Linked DNA regions of Homo sapiens. The protein of the gene in region 1 purifies or fractionates together with the protein of each later gene. This does not show direct contact. Each region holds a gene or a part of one and is shown in the gene's direction. Other genes may lie near its edges.

What was found. Proteins that work in one complex are often made in the same cells at the same time.
Region 2: the proteins of TRAPPC6B (region 1) and MAP1A purify together in Homo sapiens (affinity purification with mass spectrometry; one large-scale study listed by BioGRID and IntAct). This does not show direct contact.

What each region holds. Positions count from the first base shown.
Region 1 is NC_000014.9:39,150,197-39,153,355, reverse strand, and holds part of TRAPPC6B (trafficking protein particle complex subunit 6B), read left to right. Parts: intron 1-1,516; coding exon 1,517-1,610; intron 1,611-2,974; coding exon 2,975-3,006; 3' UTR 3,007-3,159. UniProt on the Homo sapiens protein: Component of a transport protein particle (TRAPP) complex that may function in specific stages of inter-organelle traffic.
Region 2 is NC_000015.10:43,516,001-43,519,749, forward strand, and holds the start of MAP1A (microtubule-associated protein 1A), read left to right. Parts: upstream 1-1,607; 5' UTR 1,608-1,700; intron 1,701-3,749. UniProt on the Homo sapiens protein: Structural protein involved in the filamentous cross-bridging between microtubules and other skeletal elements.

The sequences.
Region 1 (3,159 bases):
GCATCCGGCCTGATTGCCTATTTTCTATATTTTTGGGGTATCCAGGCTCTAATTACATTTTTATGGTTAATGTGTATATTTTCTCTCTTTTTTTTTTTTTTCGGACAGAGTGTGAGACTCACTGCAACCTCTGCCTCCTGGGTTCAAGTGATTCTCCTGCCTCAGCCTCCTGAGTAGCTGGGATTACAGGTGTGCGCCACCATGCCTGGCTAATTTTTTGTATCTTTAGTAGAGACAGGGTTTCACCATGTTGGCGAGGCTAGTCTCAAACTCCTGACCTCGTGATCCACCCACCTCAGCCTCCCAAAGTGCTCGGATTACAGACGTGATTACAAAAGCCACCCAAAATGCTGGGATTACAGCCTCCCAAAGTGCTGGGATTACAGACGTGATTACAAAAGCCACCCAAAATGCTGGGATTACAGCCTCCCAAAGTGCTGGGATTATAGGCCATGCCTGGCATATTTTCTCTTTTTTACTAACTTCTTAGTTTAATATTTCTGGTTCTCACTTAACTTTTTGGGATCTTGGTTTCTTCAGCTGTGAAAAGAGTAAGTTGGACCAATTCAGTGATTTCTAACTATTTTGAGTTATGGACATCTTTGAGAACTGGAACACCTTTCCCCATAAATACGCACATATACATGGTTTTTATTTTCATAGGGGTCACAAATTCCCCGATTAAGAACTCTTGGGATGAACAATCTCTAAGGCCTCTTCCAGCTTAAAATTTCATGACTCAGATCTAGTTACTTATTAGTGCCCATTTATGTATATTATTTATAAGATAATATTTTATATTATTCGTAGATAATGTAGTATGTTGAACATCATGCAGTATAGATGTGGGTAATCAAAAATTCCCTGAATTGCTAATTTTTCAATCCAGTTCTTGTCATGACTTTTGGTTTTGTAGCTCAGCCCTATTCCCTTTCTTTGTTTCTATATGACAGGGTTTCTCAACGTCCAAACTGTTGATACTTTCAACCAGATAATTCTTTGTTGTGGCAAGCTATAAGTCTTGAACAAGTCAAGATTCTTGGTTGTAAATAGGGGAAAGAAATTCTGCTTGTAAGCTAACAAAATTGATAAGCTCAAAGAATAGGCAATAACCAGGGGAGGTTAAGGCAGCCAGTAAGATAGCCAAGTCACTCTGCAGACTGTATCTACTTAGAATCCTGCAGGCAGCAGGGACTGTAGACACAAACTACCTTTACTGCCTCCAGAACTAATTCTGATCAGTTTCTGGCTTGTTTTTGTCACTGAGTCTAGATTCACAGTCCTGGACTGGAGTACTTAATTGGCTGAGCTTAAGTCTTAAGTCCTACGTCCATGCTTTAGTTTCCAGGGAGCTGGGAAATATATCAATATTTTTCAGTAATTTGAACAGTTCTTCAAAATCCTTTTTTTAAACAGGAATGACTTACTGATGATAAATCATGTAATGTTGTATTTATCAATAGCTTTACTATTTTAGTAAATCCTTACTATTTTTAATGATTTTTTTTCCTTTTAGTATTTAGCATTTACGTGTGGCTTAATCAGAGGTGGCTTATCAAACTTGGGAATAAAAAGTATTGTAACAGCTGAAGTGTCTTCAATGCCTGCTTGTAAGTTGAATTCGCCTTTCTTACAAATGTTTTAGTAATTTGTTTTCAGGTCTGTTTTTTTTTTTAATTTAACTGAGAGGAAATTTAAAATGCTGAAACTTTCATTTTAGTTTTATCAATGTAACACTTTAGTGTAGTAATATGTAGCATACTACATTCATTTTCAGTAATTTTTGAATAATGGACTAAAATCCAAATTTATAAGACAATTTAAGGGATGATTTTTAACTTTTCTAAAGTTATTCAAACTGTAACTTTTTTAAAGATATTCTTCTGAATATCTCCTGCAGTGTTTTAAGATAGCAAATTTCCCTAGAACATTGAAAATGCTATTTTTTTTTTTTTTTTTTTTTTTTGAGACGGAGTCTCGCTCTGTTGCCCAGGCTGGAGTGCAGTGGCACAATCTCGGCTCACTGCAAGCTCCACCTCCCGGGTTCACGCCATTCTCCTGCCTCAACCTCCCGAGTAGCTGGGACTACAGTTGCCTGCCACCACGCCCAGCTAATTTTTTGTATTTTTAGTAGAGATGGGTTTCACCGTGTTAGCCAGGATGGTCTCCATCTCCTGACCTTGTGATCCGTCTGCCTCGGCCTCCCAAAGTGCTGGGATTACAGGCATGAACCACCGCGCCCGGCCCGAAAATGCTATTTTTAAACAATTGTTTAGGATATGTCTATTATATCAAGCTAAGTAAAACCAAATATTCTTTTATCACTAAATGTCTCCCTAAAGATCTTTTCACCAGAGCTACCAACCAAGAAAAAATGGACTTGAGCTTTATTGTATTTCTTTTCAATTTACAATGATCATTAGCCATGAAATACTGTACCCAAATGTAGGATTCATAAAGAGAAACAAAAGTGCTTACTCAACAAACCATATAATCATCCCATAAAAATAGAATTGACTGGCCGGGTGTGGTGCCTCACACCTGTAAGCTCAGCACTTTGGGAGGCCGAGGTGGGCGTATCATGAGGTCAGGAGTTTGAGACCAGCCTGGCCAATAAGGTGAAACCCTGTCTCTACTAAAAATACAAAAATTAGCTGGGCGTGGTGACAGACGCCTGTAGTCCCAGCTACTCAGGAGGCTGAGGCAGGAGAATCACTTGAACCCAGGAGGTGGAGGTTGCAGTGAGCAGAGATCGTGCCACTGCACTCCAGCCTGGGCAACAGAGCAAGACTCCATCTCAAAAAAAAAGAAAAAATAGAATTGACTTTATTGAATATTATGAAGAATGCGAAAAAGTTTTTGACATAGCAGATTTCTTGACTGAAACTATTTCCTATATGGAACAGAAAATTGATGTTTAGACTTGTTTTCTTTGTATCTAAAATCAAAGAATTATTTGTATTTTTTTTTTTAGGCAAATTTCAGGTGATGATACAGAAGCTGTAGAACATACTGAAATGCAAGGCTTCAACAGTGTAAAGAGATAAATTATTCATGTAAAAGTATTTCAAGTAGTGATGATTTAATTACATTGTTCGATGTTTGTACAGGAGTAAGCATGTATTTTTATCAATTTAACACAGATCAAAGGAGATGAAG
Region 2 (3,749 bases), on another chromosome or scaffold:
TTGGTCTGGGAAATGTTATTTTGTTCGTAAACTAAATGTCTACTTAAGTTTCCCTCCTAACACACTCCAGAAAGCCCTAGAAAGCAGGGAGGAGATAGAAGGCTTGAGGTGGGAGGAAATAAGAACGATGAAGTTGCAGAAGAGGGGTATTTCCCTTTTGTGATGCTCAGAACTCAGCCTGGTTTTCCCTGTGTATCTCTGCAGATGGCCGCTTCTACCCAAACGGGGTTGTTGCCATTGTCGCAGATTTGCATCCCCGGATCTAAGCAAGGATTGCTCCCCTTTTGTCCCCTCAACCCCCAAGAGTACTAGTGACTCAGCTCCTCCTCTCCTCTGGCTGCAATTAAGGGGGGATGGGGGATGCTGAGAGCACAGACTATTTTGGCTTCTCTGACCTTCAAAAGTAACTCTTGGCAGCCTGGGGCAAGGGTGGGGCTAGTGTTTGGGTGTGAGTGGGTGGCTGTGATTGTGAGGAAGGCCTTAGGAGCTGGCCAAACTGGGGAGGGTGGATGGGAAGAGGGCAGGGAAGGACTATGTAAGAGCATGAGCATCCTCGGGTTGGAAGGAAGTGCTACCACTCTCCAGATTCTTCCTTTGAGTCCTAGAGCGCTTTACTAAATCTGAGATGGAGGTAGAGACTAAGGGAAACAGGATCAACATTAGAAAGATCCAAATAATATAATATAGAAACAGCAAAGAGACAAGGAGAGAGCAAGAACCCAATCACCCTACAAAGTCATTATAGGGTTTTTTTAATCTAAAGAGTACTTCTGTTACATTTAATAATTGGCCTACAACCTTGCTTGGGCCGGAGGCCCTGGTGATCCTTCTTGGTCCTTGTTAACTCCTTCACTGTAAGGCAGAAAGCTCCCTGTCCCTTCAGGGACTTGTCTCTTCATATCCAATGACTCAAGAATCCCAAGAATCAGTGCCTGTGTGGTTACTGTGTTATGCTGCATTCCCATGAAACTTCATGTAGCTCTCAGGGTCCCTGTGCCCCACCCCAACAGGCTAGGGACCATGTGTCCACTCCGGAATTTCAAACTACCCTCTAACCCTAAAATAAGACTTATTTCTGCCCTCCTTGGTTTCTGTAGTGCTGAGGTTCAGAAGAAGGCAGCACATCTCTGCATCCCCAACCTTTGTCTTAAGCAGTTCCCCACACCTACCCCATGCTTTTGGGCCCCCAGCCTTTGTCTCCTGCTCCTCCAGGGACTGAAGGTCACTCCCTGGATCCATCTGAGGAGAGAGGCAGCAGATGGTTTCTAAGAGAAGGGGGAGAGCCCACGCAGCCCATGCCTCCTATAGCCTCGCTCTGTGCCCTAGCATGGGGCTTTGGTCTTTTGGCTGATGCCAAAAGAATATTTCCTAACTAAGCAGGGTTGGGAGAGAAAGGTCCTATGGGCCATAGGACATTGCAGAGGCTCCTTGAGCTGCTAGACAATCCCTCAGCCCCACAGAGCCAAGCAAAAGCACTGGAGCTCAGACGTCGTGAAGGCAAAGAAACAGTTAAGTCTCCAGTGCCTCGTCACGGACCAGCCCCTCTTCCCCGCCCTGGCGCCGCCCTCCTCATCAAGCACCCCCCTCCCCCCCCCACCGCCCGCCCCACTCCCACCCTAAGTGCTGCAGACTCTTCCCTGAAGCTGCCGGCTGAGGCCGGAGCTGCCGCCTCCATGAGAGGCTTCCTCCTACACCCCAGGGTAAGAACCGAACCAAAGGGCTTGGCATGTGGGGGTACACTGTGATAGGGAGGTGGGATGGGGGTCATGGAAAGGGTGCTGGTACCTAATCTGGCACATCTAGAACTAGCCCAGTGGCAGTAGGCAGGATGGGGAAATGGAGAGAGAAGATGAACGTTACTGGCTGTGGGCCCAGCCTGGACCCAGAACCAGAGGCCACCAGGGGCTGTGACAGTCCACCTCTCCAGCTGGGCGGGGATGGGAGAAATCAGCCTGGGACAGCAGCAGAGGGTGGTGCCACTGGCTCTGCCTGACAGCCCAGGATGCTGGAGGAGTTTGGGGGCTATGTTTCTGGTCAGAGGCAGAAGAATCTGAGAGAAAGGGGGATGTTATGGGAATGTGCCTAATAGGAGGGCCCCTGGGTGTCAGCTGCTGGATTGCTCAGCTGCTCCTATGCTGGGGGTGAGCAGGGCAGTGAGTTTTTGCCAAGTAAGGGAAGGTGGGGGACACTATGGAAAAGAAGGGAGGAAAGGGTCACTAAGACGTGGCACGCGCCTCCTTACAGACCAACCGGTTTGCAGTGGGCTCCCCCACCCTATTCCCTGCGGCTAGCTTTAGAATGGGACTCTAAACCCCCCTTTCTGGCCCTGCCGAGGCCACTCTGGAGACGGAGAACTCCCTCCCCAGCGGCTGCCCTGCATTTCCAGTCGTGTCAACCCCACAGGTTCCCAGTCTCAGCCCTACCCCCACCTCATCTCTGCTTCTCTTCCCAAGATGGGGGCTCTTGAACAGAGGAGCCAGTTTCTTCTCTCTCTCTGCATCCCCCCATCCCCACCCCCCATGCAGAAGCAGCCAAGAAAATGACTTGTCATGCTGGGGTGGGGGGTGGGGGCGGAGCTGGAGCCGGAGCTCAGCGCGCACACTCACACACTGCGGCAAACTGCAGCTGCCCAAACGGTCCCCCTCCCCTTCTGCCTCACTGCGGAGACACCTGCCCTCCTGCCTGCTCAGCCTCTGCACCGCAGCCCACCCCCCCCCGCAACTCCAGCACTGGCTGAGCACTGTGTGTCCCTGCCTCACAAGATGGTCCTCTCTAAAGAAAAAGGAAAAAACGAGTCAGTTCCCTTCAGTGAGAGAGCCAGGGGAGCAGAAGAAACGGCTTTCTCCCAGGCCTGAAAAAGAGAGGCACAGGATATAAACCATGTAATTTCAAGTCAGAACCACTCCCAGGGATAGAGTGAGGAACAGGACCTTATGCCAGGACAGGAACTGGGATCATAGAAGTCTTGTGGTGATAAATGGGGACCGTGAGGAATGGTTGGGGGCAGGGAGGGGTAGATAGAAAGCAAATCAGTGTGTGCTATAGATATTTGTCTTTCTGACCCTCCTACCTCAAATTTATGACCTTATTTGTGTGGAGGGAGCTCTTGTCTTTCTAAATCTGAACGACTTAAGGCTGGCAGCTTCCCGAACCTTGATATCCCTCACCTGCCCCAAGCCCTGCCCTTGCCTACATCTGAGGTGGCTCTTGTCCTCTGAATTTATCTCAAATGTTCCCTCAATTCTCAAGTAAATAGAAGGGAACCCTTGAATTCCCCTTTGGCCCAACCCACGCTGTATGGGGTTTGGTCTTCTGACACCATCGTTCATTTCCCCCACAGCTGCATCTGCAGCCCTGTGCTGCCAGATCTGCCTGATCCTGGCACCATGGCTCTGCCTCTTAACAAAGGCCCTGGCCCCAGGCTTCTCTTGTCCAAGCACCAGAAAGAAGAGAGAGCTGGGTCACAGAAGAGGGTCTAAGGGACAAATTATGGACCCTCCCACCAGTATCCTCCAGACAGCCCACTGCCATCTGTTGGATGCTCTGTGAGGTTAATGCCACTATGTACTGCAATTGGAAAGGGGATTTGGCAAGGAAGGGCGGGTGCAGGGGATGGCAGCATTCTTCTTCAGCATCTTCTGTCTCATTTGCCACTTTCTTTCTTTGCTGAATTGTTTGGTGTTTCATGTGAGGCTGGAGAAGGGAAATAGGGGATTTGGGGATGCCTTATCTTTCTCCATGGCCTGGGG